Homo sapiens: one gene and its partners. The protein of the gene in region 1 purifies or fractionates together with the protein of each later gene. This does not show direct contact. Each region holds a gene or a part of one and is shown in the gene's direction. Other genes may lie near its edges. The genes, in order: OR2G6, SLC47A1, KIAA1549, SLC44A5 and DPY19L4.

The links.
Region 2: the proteins of OR2G6 (region 1) and SLC47A1 purify together in Homo sapiens (affinity purification with mass spectrometry; one large-scale study listed by BioGRID and IntAct). This does not show direct contact.
Region 3: the proteins of OR2G6 (region 1) and KIAA1549 purify together in Homo sapiens (affinity purification with mass spectrometry; one large-scale study listed by BioGRID and IntAct). This does not show direct contact.
Region 4: the proteins of OR2G6 (region 1) and SLC44A5 purify together in Homo sapiens (affinity purification with mass spectrometry; one large-scale study listed by BioGRID and IntAct). This does not show direct contact.
Region 5: the proteins of OR2G6 (region 1) and DPY19L4 purify together in Homo sapiens (affinity purification with mass spectrometry; one large-scale study listed by BioGRID and IntAct). This does not show direct contact.

The regions. Positions count from the first base shown.
Region 1 is NC_000001.11:248,521,329-248,525,399, forward strand, and holds part of OR2G6 (olfactory receptor 2G6), read left to right. Parts: intron 1-282; 5' UTR 283-318; coding exon 319-1,269; 3' UTR 1,270-4,071. UniProt on the Homo sapiens protein: Odorant receptor.
Region 2 is NC_000017.11:19,553,933-19,558,003, forward strand, and holds part of SLC47A1 (multidrug and toxin extrusion protein 1), read left to right. Parts: intron 1-1,279; coding exon 1,280-1,377; intron 1,378-1,660; coding exon 1,661-1,758; intron 1,759-1,863; coding exon 1,864-1,977; intron 1,978-2,062; coding exon 2,063-2,130; intron 2,131-3,627; exon of another isoform or gene 3,628-3,779; intron 3,780-4,071.
Region 3 is NC_000007.14:138,971,104-138,975,174, reverse strand, and holds part of KIAA1549 (UPF0606 protein KIAA1549), read left to right. Parts: intron 1-4,071. UniProt on the Homo sapiens protein: May play a role in photoreceptor function.
Region 4 is NC_000001.11:75,208,763-75,212,833, reverse strand, and holds part of SLC44A5 (choline transporter-like protein 5), read left to right. Parts: exon of another isoform or gene 1-900; intron 901-1,281; coding exon 1,282-1,366; intron 1,367-4,071.
Region 5 is NC_000008.11:94,788,829-94,792,899, forward strand, and holds part of DPY19L4 (probable C-mannosyltransferase DPY19L4), read left to right. Parts: intron 1-917; coding exon 918-1,082; 3' UTR 1,083-4,071. UniProt on the Homo sapiens protein: Probable C-mannosyltransferase that mediates C-mannosylation of tryptophan residues on target proteins.

The DNA.
Region 1 (4,071 bases):
GTGTAAAAATGGGCAAAGTACAAGAATAAGCAAAGAGTGAATAAATACAAATATCAAATAAAACAAATGTTAATACAATACTTTTGTTGTTTGAGTAAAACTTTATTCAATAAAAATAGAAGGAAGTGGCATTTCCCGCCCATGGATTTATGTTGAGGAAAGTTCTATAGGTCTTCACAACATGTTTTAGGTGATATATAAGGAAGATAATTATACTGTAAACGACTGTGGATTACCATTCTTGACCTCATTACTTTCTATCCCCAAATATTAATCACTTAGTATTTGAAGCTGAAGAGTCCTGAAGCTGCAGGAAAAATGGAGGAAACCAACAACAGCTCTGAAAAGGGATTTCTTCTCCTGGGATTTTCAGATCAGCCTCAGCTAGAGAGGTTTCTTTTTGCCATCATTTTGTACTTCTACGTCTTGAGCCTTCTGGGGAACACTGCCCTCATACTAGTATGTTGTCTGGACTCCAGACTCCACACTCCAATGTACTTCTTCCTCAGCAACCTCTCGTGTGTGGACATCTGCTTTACCACCAGTGTTGCCCCACAGTTGCTGGTTACCATGAATAAGAAAGACAAAACCATGAGCTACGGTGGCTGTGTGGCCCAGCTCTATGTGGCCATGGGGTTGGGCTCGTCTGAGTGTATTCTCTTGGCCGTCATGGCTTATGACCGCTATGCTGCTGTCTGCCGGCCACTGCGCTACATAGCCATTATGCACCCCAGGTTCTGTGCGTCTCTGGCCGGTGGAGCATGGCTCAGCGGCCTCATCACCTCCCTAATTCAGTGCTCCCTCACTGTGCAGCTGCCCCTCTGTGGTCATCGCACACTGGATCATATTTTCTGTGAGGTGCCAGTGCTCATCAAACTGGCCTGTGTGGATACGACTTTCAACGAGGCAGAACTCTTTGTGGCCAGTGTAGTCTTTCTAATTGTCCCGGTGTTACTCATCTTAGTCTCCTATGGCTTTATCACTCAAGCTGTGTTAAGGATAAAATCAGCTGCGGGCCGCCAAAAGGCCTTTGGGACCTGTTCGTCTCACCTGGTTGTGGTCATCATTTTCTATGGGACCATCATATTCATGTACCTTCAACCGGCCAATAGGAGATCCAAAAACCAGGGAAAGTTTGTTTCTCTTTTCTATACCATAGTCACCCCACTTTTAAACCCCATTATCTACACTCTGAGAAACAAAGATGTGAAAGGGGCCTTGAGGACCCTGATACTGGGTAGTGCTGCTGGACAAAGCCACAAGGACTAGGAAACACCTGGAATTCTAAACAAGGGAAACACCTCAAGGCAGAGTGAGGGTTCATCCTCCCCAGACATTCCTCTTGTCAATCCCAAAGCCACAGGGACTAGGAAGCATTGGAATTCTAAAGAAGGGAAACACCTCAAGGCAGCGTGAGGATTCATCCTCCCCAGACATTCCTCTTGTCAATCCCAAAGCCACAGGGACTAGGAAGCATTGGAATTCTAAAGAAGAGAAACACACCAAAGCAGCATGAGGGTTCATCCTCCCAGACATTCCTCTTGTCAATCCAAGACCCTGTGTTCTATCTGGAAAAAAATGTTTGTCCTTCATCCACCTGCCATCAAGGTTCATGTATCCATTATTTCCTTCTAATGTGCCAGCCCATCTGATAGACTTCTACTAATGCTTCAAAACTCAGCTGAAATGTCACCTGCACTCACTAGCTGTCCTGAAACACCATCCTTCTCATCCTTGTGCAGAATTAACTGTTTCATAATATGTTTCCATAGCACTTGATCCACACTACCATTTCTACATTTCACATTTGAGATATATGTATACATATATCTCTAACTAGGCAAAGCAATGTATATAACAGACTGAAAAAATACATGACCATTTTCCCAGAATATGTCACTTTTAACTGGAGAATGGAACCATCCCACTCTATTGGCTTATTTACAACACGAGAAACACAAATATTAAGAGTTGTGATGCTTTGGTTCCACAGAATTGTGGGATGCAAATAATGACTAATATTTTATTAAAGGAATCAAATAAGCAAACTTGAATTAAGGAGATTGATTAAAAGTTGAGTAAAATTGCCATATACTAAAATGTGTTTTAACATTTATACAAAATTCATAAAATAAGTTATTGTTTTTGGCCTTAAACTCTGGAAAACAGTTACTTATGTAATTTTATACTTCAAAAATTTGAAATATGAATCCCACACACTGTCTCACGTTAACGATCATAGTTATATGTTTGGTTTCCAAAACAGCAAAAAAAATGAAATATTTAGAAGCATTTTAATAAATGTATTCTTATATTTGACCAAACTTTTACTTTCTGATTTAATTCTGTCTCTATCTCTCTGTGTATCTTTGTGTGTCTCAGCCTCTTTCTTGCTTTCTTTTCCCAAAACGATTGAACTTCATCAATTCGTCAACCTCAAGTATTTTAAGAGAACTGTGCAATTATAGAAAAAAGTGATTTAATCTGTGGTTGTAATTTTACTTCATATTCTCATTATGATACACATGAAAAAAGCATGAAAACATCAATGCAAATGAAGAGTAAAATGCAGGCAGAATCTGGGGTGGAAGTGGAATTTTCAAGTGATTTAGACTTTTCTTTTTTGGACAGGGTCTTGCTCTGTTGCCCAGGCTGGAGTGCAGTGGCTCAATCATGGCTCACTGCAGCCTTGACCTCCTGGGTTTAAGTGATCCCTCTGCCTCAGCCTTCCAACATTCAGATTTATAATAATTCATCCTGGTGTGAGAATATTGTAGCCTGTCTACGAATGTTAAGGATAACGTTTGGACCTGCCTCTCCTACCAAAGCCTGGACTGAAGGCAAAATGGCTGCGCACACAAGAACAAAAAGGCATCAGGAGAATTCACTAATGACTCAGGCTGCCTCTTCACAAATACCCTGTCCAGCTGGCACCTCTTCAATATACTTTTAGCAAACAAAATGATGAATATCCAATTTAACAAAAACGAGGGAAAAGAAGCCTGGTTAAATTTGTCTTCTAGGATATTCTTATGTGATTTTCCTCCTCCAGTAATGGAGAGGAGAGTTGGGAACTGAGCAGAACATGCTGAGGAGCACATGTTTTTATTTACAATATGCAAGTAGAGAAGTAGTTCTACAGGAAGCGTCACATGTACAAATGCATTATTCCTGATAACCCGAGCAACACAGCATAGGAAAGAATGTACCTGTGTCAGAGTCTCAATCAATTTACATGGAATATGGCCCCAGGGCAAAAGATGTGGCATTTAAAGGAAAGAAATAGCTCCAGGTGAAAAGACAACCATGTGTAAAGCAATGATATGAACACAATATGTAGAAAAACCTACATATGAATTGTGAAGCAACCATTTTCAAAGACAAACTCACATCCATTTAAGGTAATATGGAATACAAATCCCACTGAAAATAAAATCAAATTATTACTGTATACAATAAATTCAAACATAATTCAGAAAAAAATAGAATATCTGCTTATTGCTGAAATTAGCATCTTTAGCTGTAAGTTATTTGCACCCAAAAGGAAACCAGAAAATAATAGATATAACATAGGCAAAGCAACCTAAAAAAACTACTTAACTGCAGATGAAAATGGGAACACATTTGAAAATAAAATCCTGTTACTACTTTCTTGAATTTAGAGCTTTCCTATGATATGGATATGTTTATACTGCTTTTATAATCATCATACATGTATAATTTCATACTATTTTTATTTATAATGTGAGCATTTTTCTGATTAATCTAAAAAATATCCACCATTTATTAAAAATCTTCCCTATAATTGAATAACATGAGTAGTTTCTCTTTTTTAAATACCTACATTGAGCATACTTTTGTTTGTGAATGCTTATAATTATGTACTTATAATGTATTTTATAAATACAATTAGTAAATCTAAAACAGGTACACATCAGTCAATTTGCACACATTACTAGCTTGATCTGCAGAACACGTTTTCAAAGGATGCGCCAAGAAAAAAACTATCACTTAGTTAAATGACCATTCAGTATTGCAATTATTTAAAAACTATACAATGAGAATGCTGTA
Region 2 (4,071 bases), on another chromosome or scaffold:
GATCACTAATTCCCTTGCTACAAACTAACCAGGGCCTCCCCATAAATATGTGGCCTACACAAGTTGTCGGCCAAGACCATTGTCCTGGCCCCATCAGCCTGAGACCACCAGAGACAGGACTGTAGGCCAGTGGGTTTGCAGTTGTGTTTATTGGCCTGTCGCAGTGAGAGAGACTAGAGAGGCTGTGGGATGCCTCAGCAAAGGAAGAAGAGTTATTATAAAGGTTTGAAGAAGGGTGGGGTTCAGGTGACATTTAAGCGAAATCATGGTTTGATAGGCGCTGAGCAGATCTGTGAGTGAGGGGCCCAACATCAGGCCTGGGCTGTGACGTGGACCTGGTGCTCCTCCTTTGGAAACTCAAGGCTAAGAAGGATGTTGAGGGTGGACAGATGTAAAATGCCACATCCAGGAGCTCCCACGAAGCTCTGTGCCTGGGTTGGAAATTGAGGCTACTTTTTTGTGTTAACATGATTTTGAGCCTCCACGCGAGAGTGGGGTGTTTTCTTTTTACTGAAATGATTTCAAACAGCAATGTTTCTGAACAGTCTGATTTTAGACAACAAAGTTTCTCAGTGAGTCAGAAAGCACTCGTCATTCCACTAGGGGAGTAATGACACTTTATGGGGACAGCGTGACCTTGGGAGAAAGGAGGTTTCCTTTTACGTTTGCACTGACTTTATCTGCGTCTGCTATTCTATCCGGATGCGGGGCAGGACAGAGTTTTACTTCCTTGGTCTGATGTAATTTTACTTTCACCCCTGTCTTACTTTGAGACACCAAACAGTCTGGATGTTTCACCAGTCCTGTACTTTTGAAAGTTAGATATGTTGGAATCCCTTCCGTATTCTAGAAAGAAACTCTAGTTTCTTCAAGATCTTAGGTCAATTTTCTGAATTTCTATTTTGGTGAAGAAAGTATTCTCATTTTCTCCTATCGTCCAGTGTCAAAGGTGCCTTGTTGACCCATTTAGCCCCTGCCAGTCCTTGCACTGTTGGAAATAAGCCATTTATCTTCTTCCTTCCCTGCTGCTGAACATATCTTGCCTGTGTCTCTCTGTGGCCAGAACTCCGCACTTTATACCTCAAAGAGAGAAGGAAGAGAAAGGGGTGGGAGAGTGGAAAGGCAGGAGCAACAAGGACATGACCTCCCCAGTTAAGCCCCCCAGCTATGCCTGTGATACCCGCTGAGCAGGCCAGCTGGAGCCTGTGTGTGCTTGGGTAGCAGAAAGGCAGTCCTATTCTGTGGATCTCAAGGATGGCATGCGGTGTCCTTTTTCCAGGGAATTGTACTGCCCCAGATCGTAACTGGAGTTGCAGCCAACCTTGTCAATGCCCTCGCCAACTATCTGTTTCTCCATCAACTGCATCTTGGGGTGATGTGAGTCCAACATACTCTTGGGACAGGGAGAAGGGATGACTTGCATGTGGTTTTTCCAGGAGGGAGAAGAGTGGGCTCTTCAGCTGGTTCTTGTGTCCATGCGTGGTCTCTTTCTTGCACACTGTGGAAAGCACTGTCAGGGATGGAGGGTGAGGCTGCTCTGGGAAGAAGACCTTGGCCTGCTGAGGACAGCACGGGAAGGGATGAGTCTCCCCTCCTCACTGAGTTGGGCAGGGAGAGGCGCAGGAAGGTACCTCCCTCTCATTGGGACTGTTCTTTCCAGAGGCTCTGCACTGGCAAACTTGATTTCCCAGTACACCCTGGCTCTACTCCTCTTTCTCTACATCCTCGGGAAAAAACTGCATCAAGCTACATGGGGAGGTAATGACTGCCCTTTTGTCTTCCAACTGGGATGTGGGTTTTGTCTCAGGTTGAGTTCCAGCCCGATGGCCAGATCTCCTGGAAATGTGTGTGTCCCCCCCACAGGCTGGTCCCTCGAGTGCCTGCAGGACTGGGCCTCCTTCCTCCGCCTGGCCATCCCCAGCATGCTCATGCTGTGCATGGAGTGGTGGGCCTATGAGGTCGGGAGCTTCCTCAGTGGTCTGTATGAGGATGGATGACGGGGACTGGTGGGAACCTGGGGGCCCTGTCTGGGTGCAAGGCGACAGCTGTCTTTCTTCACCAGGCATCCTCGGCATGGTGGAGCTGGGCGCTCAGTCCATCGTGTATGAACTGGCCATCATTGTGTACATGGTAAGCAGGGGAGCCGATCATGGGGAGGTGCCAGGCGTTTTCCTTGCTTGGTATCTGAAAGAGTCTATGGATGAGCACAGGCATTCGTACATGAATCATTTGTGAAATGATGGACAAAAGTCAAATCCCATCCTTGAGCCTGGGAGGGTACCTCTGCTACAGCTGGATCTTCCCTAGGAACTGAAGGGGGGCTGGAGAGAAACTGCACATGATCTGCTGGTTCTCCATCTCCTAACGCAGCTCCCAGCTGAATCTTCCCTTGAAAGATTTGATTTTGTTTCCATACTTTTAGAATCTTTTTCAGTTGTCACAACACAAATGCCTTGAGGGGCCAGGTGGGTGGCATAGCAGAGGGATGAGGCTGGGTGTATGACCATAAACATCAAGCTGCCTGTGTCACTATGCCCGCTCCTGCCTGGTTCTGAAGCCTCTGAAAACACAGTGTGGCTACTGCAAGGTAGATCCCCAAAACAACTGAAAGCAGGGTCTTAAAGGGATTTTTTTTTTTTTTTTGAGATGGAGTCCCACTCTTGTTGCCCTGGCTGGAGTGCAATGGTGTGATCTCGGCTCACTGCAACCTCCGCCTCCCGGGTTCAAGCATTTCTTCTGCCTCAGCCTCCCAAGTAGCTGAGATTACAGGTGCCTGCCACCACGCCCAGCTAATTTTGTATTTTCAGTAGAGACAGGGTTTCACCATGTTGGTCAGCTGGTCTTGAACTCCTGACCTCAGGCGATCTACCCGCCTTGGCCTCTCAAAGTGTTGGGATTACAGGCGTGAGCCACCGCGCCTGACTTGTTAACTGTGTTCACAGGAGCATTATTGACAGTAGACAAAAGGTGGAAGCAACCTATGTGTCTGCGGGTAAATGAAATGGGTTCTATGCATACAGTGGAGTATTATTCAGCCTTAAAAGGGAGGAAATTTTGATCATAGAGAACACTAGTCATTAGGAGGCTTTTCTTTGGCTTTATTTTCCTGAAAACATCAACTGGAGATTCTGAAGGAAGCAAGTACCATTTTAGAAATGTAAAATTAAAAACAAAGGGAGTTTATAATGTGGGGAGAAACTCAAGCCAGCAGATATGCTTGGCATTTTTTGCAGTATTAACACTTAGATTTTTTCCCTCTGATATTGGTTATGTTTTAAAACATAGAGTACACATTTTCTGTTTTGTTTAAGAATTATTCTCTTGCAGACCTATGTTTTTTGTTTTTGTTTTTCTATCCTTGGCAGAGTTTTTTAACATGGATTTTTTACTTCACTTTTAATATTTTATTTACATTTTATATTTGAGTAAATTCATTAACTATATCTAAGTCAAAATGCTTAATGGTATATAGGATTCCACTATATGTGATATACTTTTAAAATCAATTTCCTATGGTTGAATAGTTTATTTCCAATGTTTCAATATTAACAACTCTTCAAGGAACATCCTAGGAAAAAATATCTTCATATACTTGTCTGATTATTTCTTTAAGATTCATAAAAGTGGGCCCAGGGTATGTTCACGGGGCGATGCTGCCCTCCCAGCTGGCCCATGGGTGACCCTGGGAACATTAACTGCCTCACAACGTTTGTGCCTCAGTTACCCGTAGATGTAGTGAGGGTAACAATACTTACTCTCGTTGGTGATAAGGAACAGCTAACACAACACACAGGGTTTTTCTGCTCCCAAAATGGGATTCTTCAGTGCACCAAATCGAAGAAAGCACTGGAGCTCACGCTGGTTTCTCCATTGTTTCTCCTTAACAGTGGAAACTGTAACTTTTGTTCTAGTAGCATCTAGCATGCTCAATAATTATTTGTAAATAAAAGTTATACTTTCCCTCCAAAAAAAAAAAAAAAAAGATTCATAAAAGTGAAACAAAGGTACGATTTTATGTCTTTTGAATATATTTCCATATGCTTTCCAATAGGCTTGTAAGAATTTACACTT
Region 3 (4,071 bases), on another chromosome or scaffold:
TGTGGTCCCCACACTCTGAGCATCATCACTGCCTCTTAGCTCGCATCATCACTGCCTCCACTGCCTCGTAGCTTGTTAGAAAATGCAGAATCTCAGGGCCCACCCCCGACCTTCTGAATCAGAATCTGCATTTGACAAGATCCCCCTGGTGATTTTGCATGCACAATTGAGGTTTGGGAAGCACTGGGCTAAGAGGTAAAGTGCCTTCTGTTCTAGCCTTCTGGGAATAGGTATTGTTGGAACATTGAAGGCTAAGTCAGCCTGGACTAACTCTGGAGCTATGTAAATCTCCAGAGACCTTGAGAGACACCTGCTTTTGGGACTGAGTCTGTGTAAATAGTGTGCAAGAACCATATTTTATTTGACCAGGCAACTAGATTAGAATTGTCCCCTAGACCTGCTGTTTTCATTCATTGCGAGCATTTGACTGGTTGTAAAAACACTGAGATACAGTCTGGATGTGGTGGCTCACGCTTATAATCCCAGCACTTTGGGAGGCTGAGGCAGGTGGGTCACCTGAGGCCAGGAGTTCGAGACCAGCCTGGCCAACATAGTGAAACCTCGTCTCTACTAAAAACACAAAAAAATAGCCAGGCATGGTAGTGGGTGCCTGTAATCCCAGCTACTCAGGAGGCTGAGGCTTGAACCCGGGAGGCAAAGGTTGCGGTGAGCTGAGATCGCGCCACTGCACTGCAGTCTGGGCAACAAAATGAGACTCTGTCTCAAAAAACAAAACCAAACCACTGAGATACTACCATAGCAGTTGGTAAATAGCTGCTGTACTGAATATTCCTTGCTCCCCACCCCCAAGTACCCTGAGCCTCCCTGCCCTCTTTCAGGACTCTTCTCCCAAGGACCACCGCCACCCTCCACCTCACCGAGATCCAGTGACTGAAGGGTTAATGCTCAGCACAGCAGGTGCCTCAAGGACTCTGCTTTAGTTTTTTGGCTGAAGACCATTCTGGCAGGTTTGAGGTGCTATCTCATTGTGGTTTTAATTTGCATTTCCCTAATGATTAGGGATGCTGAGCAATTTTTCTTTACCTGTTGACCATTTGTGTGTCTCTTTTGAGAAATGTCTGTTCAGATCCTTTACCTGTAAAATTAGAATAGCTCCCTTTCCGACTGTCAGTGCTCGTGCTCCACTGCTGTTAACTGTGTTGACTATCACCTGTACATTCATTCATTGATTTTTAATCTATCCCAGATCCAGTACTTAGAAAAAAAGTTAGGCTGGGTGCGGTGGCTCACGCCTGTGTTCCTAGCACTTTGGAAGCCCAAGGCGGGAGGATTGCTTGAGCTCAGGAGTTTAAGACCAGCCTGGGTAACATAGTGAGACCTTGTTTCTACAAAAGTACAAAAATTAGTTGGGCATGGTGGCATGCACCTGTAGTCTCAGCTATTCGGGAGGCTGAGGCAGGAGGATTGCTTGAGCCCAGCAGGTTGAGGCTGCAGTGGGCTGGGATTGTGCCACTGCACTCCAGCCTGGGTGATAGAGCAAGAACTTAAAACAAAAAAAAAGCTTGTTAAATGTTGTACTTGATGGTAGTTGAAGTCATAGATATGGAAGACACTAGTGAGGGGGGAGCATGGAGAGTTAGTAGACAAGGCAGCTGAGGACAGAAACCCTGAAACTAGCGTGAAGGAGAGGGGAAGACAAAGAGGAGCATACAGAGGAACTGACCATCATGACAAAATAGTGATATGAGAGCCAGGAGAGGAGGAGAGAGTTTTCCTCTAGGTGAGTGATCCATCATGTCAAATGCTACTGTACCAAACTGTTTCTTGAAGGATGGGATGAGGGCCAACTGATCAGAATCACCTGTTAAAAACCCAACTCATGGTCAAGCCAGCTCTACTGAAACAGGTGATGCCTGAGGATTTGTATTTTTGAAATGTTCCACAAGCTCTTTATGTTATTCTTAGGCCTGGTGAGGTTTGAGTTATTCCCTATAACTTAATGGTGGCAGGAGGGTTGGTGGAAGTTTTAAAAACATGTTTTAGACTTGATTGTGTTTGTAGGCTTCAAGAGTCAGTAAAAATACAGTGACTGGGCTGGGCGCGGTGGCTCATGCCTGTAATCCCAGCACTTTGGGAGGCCCAGGCAGGCAGTTCACTTGAGGTTAGGAGTTTGAGACCAGCCTGGCCAACATGGTGAAAACCCGCCATTACTAAAAATACAAAAATTAGCCAGGTGTGGTGGCGGGTGCCTGCAATCCTAGCTATTCGGGGGGCTGAGGCATGAGAATCACTTGAATCTGGGAGGCGGATGTTACAGTGAGCTGAGATTGTGCCACTTTACTCCAGCCTGGGTGACAGAGCGACACTCTATCTCAAAAACAAAACAAAACAAAACAAAAGCAGTGGTTGACAATTTAAGGAAGTAGAAGGAAGGACCTCATGGCTAATTTACCAAAAGTGAGGAGGTTCACCTGGGCAGGCAGGACCACCCTAAGAAGAGTTAGGAAGAAGTAATGTTGGGAGAAGGAATCGGAGGGACTGGTGGAAGGTTGGGAGTGAAGTCCAAGGTAATGGGGGTATCTGTGGTGATGTTAGGGAACCCACCGTGTGATTTTTGTCCTCTAGCACTTGACGTTCCAGTGTGTCTGGGAAAGGTGAGCCATTGGCCCGAGTCAGGGATGGGGAATCACAGGGCAGGTGTGAAGAGCCAAAGGGGATTGAAGGAGCTGGCAAGAGGTGGTCTGGATGAGGTAGGAGGTGAACCGTGGCTGGAGCAGTGGGAAAGGGACTGGGAGGAGGGGGTGCAGCTGAGATCCCAGGGCAGGTGTTGAGAGAGAGGTGGGGGAGGGCGGGAGGGATTGGGGTGTCATTGTGCCGAGTTTCAGAAGTGGGTCATCTCTAGTTTTGGTCTTGGGTAATGAACAGGGTAGGGTGTAGTGGTGGGAATGAGTTGTTGAAGTGGAACATGGAGGAAGGCTTTGGGGTGAATAACTTCTGTGGATGTTGAACTTGCCTGGAGAGAGGAAGAAAGGACTGTGAGCCAGGCACCAGCCCCTCAGTGAGTGAAAGAAAGTTCCCAGAGGACTGTGAATGGGAGGGGAGGAAGTCCGTCTTGAATGTTTCTGCTGTACCATCGCTGCCACCACTGCCCTCATTCAAGCTCCCATCCTCTTTTCTCCAGGTGACTGTCACGACCTCTACTTCTCCTCTCACTTCCTCCAGTTCATCCTCCACCTTCAGCAGGAAGGGCCTGCTAGGAACAGGTCACGTCCCTTCCTCCTTGCTTGACTGTCTGCAGTGGCCCCCATGGTTTTCATTACGCTCCACGTCTGAGTCAAAGCCTGTGTGCTCAGATAGCAGGTGTACAGGGCAGGAGTTGGGTGTCTAGGATGTGGGAAAATGGGCATGGAAGGTGCAGAATATTCCACATATTGGTACTGAAAGGGACCGAGAAGATCTTTCCAGCAAGAGAAGGGAAGTGATGTGATTTGGAGGCTGAGTTTTGCCCTCTCGAGGTTGAGGTCCAGCTGTAAGACGGTTTCTCAACCCTAGGGGGTGGGTTTTGTTGTGACAGCCGCTGACTGGGTAGGACCCAGCCCCTCAGAGGGCCAGCTTCTGCGGCATGAAGGGTGCTGTGTGTGTGCAAGGAGTGAAATAACGTAGGAAGAGGGAGTGGTAAGGTGGAGGCCATCTGTGCAGGTGAGGGCTAGGAAGAAGCCAGTCTGGGGTGGGGTTGGAAAGGGAGGCAGAGAGGGCAGGAGTGAAAGCTCCTGGGGGCTTGGAAGGGATGGGATCTAGGGCAAGAGTGGAGGCATTCATTTGAGAGAGGAGGAAAACAGAAGGAGAAACAGGTGGCTTGTCTGGGGACAGAGATGTATGGGGGAGTATGGGTCTATTGGTGGAGGGTGGGAGGCGAGCAGATCTGGAGAGAGGACAGCAGCGTGGGGGGATCAGGAGCTTGAGCAAACACAACTGGCTTCCAGAGGAGAGTGAGAAGGGATGAGTGAAAGAATTGCCAGGCAGTGGCAAGGGCCCAGTTGAAGTTGGAAGGCCAGTCTTGGTCGCAGTCCAGGCAGACACTCTGCTTGTCCCTCCAGCAGCCTGGGTGGC
Region 4 (4,071 bases), about 170 Mb from region 1:
TCATTTAACCCACATTTCAAAAATACTGGCATTACTCACATTTGCCTCTCCCCCACTGCCAGTTTTATCTAGGAGACACAGAAAGGATAATTCACTTGTTGAGTGCCTGAGCTGTGATTCAAACCCAGGCAGTATGTGCTCTTAATGCCTAACGCTTTATTGCCTTGGGTACAAGATACTAAAACTGACATATTTTTGCTAAGTACTGGGGGTGGCAGGAAGAAAATGAGCAGGTCATCAATTATAGACTGGATAAAGAAAATGTGGTACAAATACACCATGGAATACTATACAGTCGTGAGAAAGAATGAGATCATGTCCTTTGCAGCAACATGGATGGAGCTGGAGGCTGTTATCCTAAGCAAACTGAAACAGGAAGAGAAAACCAAATGCTGCATGTTCTCACTTATAAGTTGTAGGTAAATATTGAGTACACATAGACACAAAGGGGGAAACAGCAGACACTGGGACCTACTTGAGGGTGGAGGGTAGAAGGAGGGAGAAGATCGAAAAACTACCTATTGGATACTAGGCTTGTTACTTGGGTGATGAAATAATCTGTACACAAAACCCCTATGACACATAATTTACTTATATGACAAACCTGTACACATACCCCTTAACCAAAAATAAAAGTTAAAAAAATAAAAGTTTAAAAAGAATTCAAAAGAATATTTCAGAAATAAAAACACTGGCATCAACTGATTGAAGAGACACAAAATATCATTGGCAAAATCTCTTTGCTTGATACAAAAATTTGTTCTCTCTTTCTTCTAAAGAGCTGGGCATGTGGCAAGAGTCCCTGGATCACTGTGTTGAGAAGGGTTGTTCTGTTATCTGGAACACCTCTTATAAACTGTTATCCGAGGGAGAAATAAACTTCTGTTTTATTAAGAAAAAGAAAGAAAGAAGAAAGGAAGAAAGAGAAAGAGAGAGAGAGAAAGGAAGGAAGGAAGGGAGGAAGGGAAGGAGGGAGGGAGGGAAAAGAAAAGAAAAAAAAGAAAAGAAAAGAAAAGAAAGGGGAAAGGAAGGGAAGGAAGAAAGAAAATAGTACCCCCCAAAAAAGGGAAAAAAAAGGCAGTTAATTTAATAAAACTTGTTTAAGTCTCAGTACAAAGTATGCAGAAGCATTATCATTGAACTTTTTGGTCTCTATACTGAACTCTTTTCCCATACAGAGTACTTCAAAACTTTCTCATCATGGCTTTCATTTATAGCTGCATTATTCTTCTTCTGGTCAAAGTAAATGACATGTTGGTTCTCTTCTTCATCCATTTACAGACAGTCATTTTTGGGTCTTACCTGATTGCACATGGGTTCTTCAGCGTCTATGCAATGTGTGTTGAAACAATTTTCATCTGCTTCTGTGAGTATTCAGTATGTGTGTTTTCCCCCTTCGGTGGATAACTGAAAGGTGAGATGGTGAAGGCCCATGTCCTTAGCTGGCTTGGGGATCTGCTGTTACCTGGCTGCAACCACAAAACGTGTTTATCTGGAAAGAGATATTGCTTAGTAGATGTTATTTAAACCATAATACCTGAGAAATAAGTCAGATGCAGAAAGACAAATACTTCATGATCTCACTTACATGTGGAATCTAAAAATGTCAAACTCATAGAAACAGAGTAGAGGGGTGATGACCAGAGATTGAGGGGTCAGTAAAATAGAGAGATGTTGGTCAAAGGGTACAAACTTTCAGTTATGCAGGATGAATAAATTATGGCACTCACATGTACAGCATGGTGACTATAGTTAATAATACTGTATTGTTAACTTGAAATTTGCTAAGCTCGTTAGTATTCTCACCACACACACACAAAGATAACTATGGGAGGTTATGGACATGTTCATTAGCTTGACTGTGGCAATCATTTTACTATATATGCATATATCAAAACATTACACACCTTAAATATTTACAGTTGTTATTTATTAATTATATCTCAATAAAGTTGGATAAAAAAATTATACCTCAACAAGGCTTAGAGAAAAATACAAAATTTAAAAAGAAATCTTAACAGCTAAGAGAATGGAGTTTGCAAAGCACAGAAGAGTCAACTACTGAAATGAAGCACAGGCTTCATGGCATACTGTTAGCATGAAATTATTTTGTTCATTTCTTGATTTTTTAAGTGAATAATAATGATTGGCTTCTGCCATGCTTTGTTAACAGAACTGAAGACGTAACAGGACTCTGGGAACTAGATATGTGGAATTCTTTGAGGAGAGGATTTATAAATTCTGATAAAGCCAAGATGACAAGGTGGTTTCAAGGACATATAGGGCCAATTCGCACTGTGCATCACAATGACAAATGGATAGGATTCGGAGAGGAGTGCCTCTAGGAAATAGTTGGATTAATTTTGATACATAGAGTTAAAATACTTCTTTAGAGCTTTCATCACTGACTTATACATGATGCTCCTATAGTTGCATATGCAACTCCCATACACAAAATAGGGTTTTCTTTTTTTGGCTAGGCACTGTGGCTCATACCTGTAATCTTAGTGCTTTCAGAGGCCAAGATGGGGAGAACTGCTTGAAGCCCAGCTTGAGACCAGCCTGGGCAACATAGTGAGACCCTATCTCTAGAAAATAAATAAATAAATAAATAAATAAATTAGCCAGGCACGGTAGCACACACCTGTAGTCCTAGCTACCCAGGAGGCTGAGGTGGGAGGATCACCTGGGCCCAGGAGTTCAAGGCTGCAGTGAGCTATGATAGTGCCACTGTATTCCAGCCTGAGTAACAGAGCAAGATCCTGGCTCTGAGAAAAAAAAAAAGATTTTTTTAATATTAGTACCTCACTTGAAAAGTCCTGGAGAACCTAGTACCTAGCAGAAGCTTAATCTGGCTTTCACCTTCCATGCCATTTCTTTGGCAAACCAACAGAAAGTAGAGTCAGTAAGTAAAAGAGCAGAACTTGTTAGCTGCACAACTACACATCCTGAGAGATTATTTCTCTAGCACATTGCCCTTAAGAGAAACAGAGAACATTTACTCTCTGACAGGCCATTACTGAACAATCCACTTGTATAAAATTTACAGTTTGCATTTTAGAATAACCCACAGCACCAACTTCACACTGGGATCAAGAGAGACGATAACTATAGGGAGATATATTCAAAGAAAACCTCCTGGAAAAAAGTCTGGCCTTGTTTTTTGTTTGTTTGTTTCTGAGCCTGTTAAAATCAATTCTCAATAACCGGACAAAGAATTCAAGAGAACTTTATGTACTAGTTAGCTCTTCCTCTGGTTGTAAATGGAAATGAAATGTTTAATGTTTTCCTAGTGCTTCAGTGGTCTAAGGAAAGCCATCTATCTACAAAATATCACATGAACAAACAGTTCAGGTATGGGATGGAAGAAGGAGCACGAGTAAGGTCAAGCACTAAAACATGGTGGACGCAGGGCTCTAGAATGCTCAAAGATCTCTCCTCTCATCTCCAACATTAACCATGGGAGCAATAACTGGAAATCACTATGTGACCTTCCCCATTCTTGTAGCTGAAAATACTTATGAAAATTTGTCTCAGGAAATGTCTAGAACCTACTAGCTTCCAGTCTTTGGAAGTTTTGGCTAATATGTGGATTTTAAGTTTGGCAGTTGATTTTGAATTTTGACAGTAAGAAATGTTTTCCACCATCTTTATTAATTGCCAACTCCTTGAAAGCCAGGTACATCAGCTTGATTCAGTGTATTGCATGTTGACATGAATCATTTCCTTTCAGAGACACTTGTCTGTGATAACAAAGAACAAGGAAACTTAAATTGTGTTTCTCTTCCTCCCCTAGCTGTTACTATGGGCAACATCACACTTTGTAAAATATTCTTCTTAAATGATGCCCTGAGCCAAATTCTGAATGTGTAGATTTATTTATTTATTTATTCCTATTGTCTTGGCTGCCAGAAAACTGGTGATTTTTACAATGCAAACCATTTGTAAACACTTCATTTTTAGAAACATGGAATCTTTTTATTATTACAAGGTACTGAGATTCATCATCTCAGAGTGGGAAAAAAATAATAGTTGTAGATGCTTATTAATGTGATCCAGGCCAGACTTCTT
Region 5 (4,071 bases), on another chromosome or scaffold:
AGATTTTTTCTGTCTTTTCCTAAATAATCATAGCTCTTTGTCTTATCCAAGATCAGTTTGGAGGTAAGAAATTACTTTTTGTGATTTCTACTTATCTTTTCCTCATGACCCCTTAATCTTGTAATATAAACTTACTCTGTTTTATGGTACATGTATTTTGAATTTCTCTGTTGGTACTTAGTGGCTGTGATCTTTGGTTTACTGGTGACACAAATGGAATTTTATGAAGCCTCGGGTACAGTTTCAGTAATTGGTGCTGTCTTGCTATCTGCTCTCTGAAGCCTTTCTATTCTGCTCTGATACCCACTTTTCTGCTGTTTTGAAGATCAGCTTACTTCTCCTTTCATGTCATGCCTGGCATGGACTTAAGCTAATCCATCCTTTTAAAGTTGGCTATCTGACATCTTTCATAGCCATTAAAATATTACTTAATTTTTTTTATAAAAACTTCTTCAAGCTAACTAAGCTATCTTAGTGAACATCATTCGGTGAAATTGTAAAGGTCTGCACTAAGTCACGAAAGTTTCCTTGCTTACTAAATAATTCTACACGAGAAGAGTGAATATATTTAGGAATATAATATGTTCATTTCTCAGCCTTGGTAGGGTGCATGATAAGGTCTTCGGAGCGATGATAATGGATTATGGAAACACTGCCTTCTAAATTTTAGGATTAAATCTTTTAAAAATTGGAAACCTTTGTGCTGGTTTCTCAGTGTCAATGAGAAGTTCAGGAGTATAGTGGGCATGGTGACTCACTTATGAAGAAGGCTTCTATTTGCTAACAGTGAGATGTTTTATAGACAATGTTTAGCAATAATGTGTTTTTTCATATAAATATACTCATTTGTATATTGATTGCATTTCTGCTATAAGCTTAATAAGCTTTTTAATATTATGTTTTATATCTTTTAATAGATGGTTTGTGAAGAAGGTGACAAGCTAACCTACTCAAAATATGGGCGATTTTGTCATGAGGTCAAAATTAACTATTCTCCATATGTGAATTATTTCACTAGAGTATACTGGAACAGATCCTACTTTGTATATAAAATCAACACTGTGATATCCTTCCAGTCTTGAAAAATAACAGAGCCTTCATTTCAAAGACTACCTGAAGTAAAATGCAGTTTTCTTCTACCTACTCGGTGTCTTTTGCAGATCAGAGTATGGACATTTGAAATATTGCTGCTTCTTTCCCCCTTCTGCTGTTAACTGGATCCAGAGTTCTGTGGGAAATAGAAGATCAAGCATTACTGTCCTTTGATTAAATGTGATATCTACCACTCTGCAATATTCCAGACAGGTGTCTTCCTTACCGTTACATGGTCTTTAACACTTTTACTGATTGCAATATTTTCCCCATAAAATCTTCATTCTATTATAATATTGATCTTGAATTTGAATATGTGCAAGGTCAGATACATTTCTCAAACATAACATTTAATAAATAATGTGATATAATTATTTAATAGAAAGAATAATTCCGACCTTCAAGCAAGTTTCTGAAGGTATTTTATGATGTATAACAACTGAAGTTTTACAATAAAAACTAATTTAAATGTTAGCTGAAGATATGTGGCATTTAAATTAAAATGGAAATTATATAAAGGAAAGTGATTTTTAAGGATATACATAAAGATATATTTAGAATTTTCATGATACTGTTCTCCTCATCTACTGCTTATGTTAAGTGAGAACTTTCTTAGTAATACATAATGCATGATGTTACTGCATTTTCTAAATGACTAGTAAGTGATTAGTTTTTTCACTTATGCCTATTAATTTGATACCAATTTAATCATGATAAAACAATAACCGTTAACATATATTTTGTTAAATGGACATTTAAAAGAATGTTGTTCAGGTTTTTTTTTTAAATACTGATATGGGGCATACAATCTATTCACATGTTTTCTACTGAAGTACTAAGTAAAAAAATTAAATCATTATCAGAATAAAAATATGTGTTCTAAAATTAGCAACAATTTCTGGGGATACATGCAGATGTTGTTAAACGTACCTCTGCATACAGATATATTATAAAACACAAGCAATGTTATTTATGAAACTGTGATGCAGTCTTCAACATCAAGAAAAAATGACAACTATAATAAAATTTACAACACAGTTTCACAGTCTAAATGCTATGTTCCTTTAAGTATTTTCATATTTTTAATCATTTATTAAGAGAAAATTGTGAAAAGTTAATTTGGCCTTATAGAGAGATTCAGGATAGATGTAGCCTATAGATGTGTCATTTTAATAAGTTGGGATACATGTTTAGTTTTTCCTTATATTCCTGTTCAGTGAACAGATTTTCATAATTCTCACTTGTTAAAGTGCTGCAAAAATTGCATTTTCAGTACTCTAAATTACTACATTAGAAGAGAGCATTTCTCCATTGTCTTTATTTTCTGTTATATATGTGTTGTAAAAGTACACTACATTAGAAGGGAGCTTTTCCGTTGTCTTTATTTTCTGTTATACATGTGTTGTTAAAGTACATGCATTCTTAGACTAACTCTCAGATGCTTTGCTCTTTTGGAGCTGAAGAATTGTTTGATGGTGATGTCATATATCTGATAGATTAGTTTCAGTGGTTCTCATTTCACTTTTATACGTAATTTCTTAACTATATTAAGATAGTTGCAGGCAGTGTACCTCAGGTTGACTCTGTACATCTGAATAGTGAGTCACTAGTATTTTGCTTCAAGCCTTCTGAAAATATAACCATAGTTACCTAAGCACACAGTGAATAGTCACATGGTAGTACTTGTGATTAGAGCATGTAAAACAATGTAATTGAAAAGTCAGCTTCCATATTTTGTAGGGGAAATAGAACACCCTACTTTTTATCTAGTGTGAAATATTTAATCGAATTTTTGTTGATTTATATTATGTTACCTGTGCTGAATTAGGTTTGGTACTTGTGTTTTGTTTGACATATTAGTAAGTTGCTTTTGCTTCTTTCTGTCAACTTATTTTTTAAATAAAATTGATCTGGAAAAATTGTTAATGGGATGTTTTAAATAATGAATTTTTCATCCAGCATCAGTTGAAAAGGAAAAGAAAGCTTCATTATGGAAATGACAATATTGAATATGACAGATAAGTTTATTTGCTTCTGTTTTAACTGCAGTTAATAGTACTAGACAACTTTAAGTGGAAAGCATTTAGTTTATTTCTTCACTTATTTGTAGAGTGAACAAATGATTCACAATTCTACAAGTAATTCCACTTAGGTAACTTACAGTTGTTAGGTTTGACAATAAAGATCTACTATGAGAGGAGAAGAATTTATGGGTTTTGGGTGGAAGGAATTTCTCAAAGAAATAAAAAATGTTCTTTGCCCTTGATACTGCAAACCCACTGATACAAGTGCCTTGAATTTATTATTATTATTATTTTTTATTTTTTTGAGATGGAGTTTCACTCTTGTCTCCCAGGCTGGAGTGCAATGGCGCGATCTTGGCTCACTGCAACCTCCGCTCGCTGCAACCTCCGCCTCCCAGGTTCAAGTGATTCTCCTGCCTCAGCCTCCGGAGTAGCTGGGATTACAGGCACCTGCCACCAAGCACGGCTAATTTTTGTATTTTTAGTAGAAACGGGGTTTCGCCATGTTGGCCAGGCTGGTCTCGAACTCCTGACCTCAGATGATCCACTCACCCCAGCCTCCCAAAGTGCTGGGATTACAGACGTGAGCCACTGCGCCCGGCGCAAGTCTTTGTTAAAAGTAGAGATGGAGGCCAGGCGCAGTGGCTCACTCCTGTAATCCCAGCACTTTGGGAGGCTGAGGCAGGCAGATCACGAGGTCAGGAGATCGAGACCATCTTGGCTAACACGGTGAAACCCCGTCTCTACTGAAAATACAAAAAATTAGCCGGGCAGGGTGGCGGGCGCCTGTAGTCCCAGCTACTCCGAGGCTGAAGCAGGAGAATGGCGTCAAGCGGCGAGGCGGAGCTTGCGGTGAGCCGAGATCATGCCGCTGCACTCCAGCCTGGGCAACAGAGCAAGACTCCATCTCAAAAAGAAAAAAAAAGTAGAGATGGGATCTCTAGCCTCCTAAGTT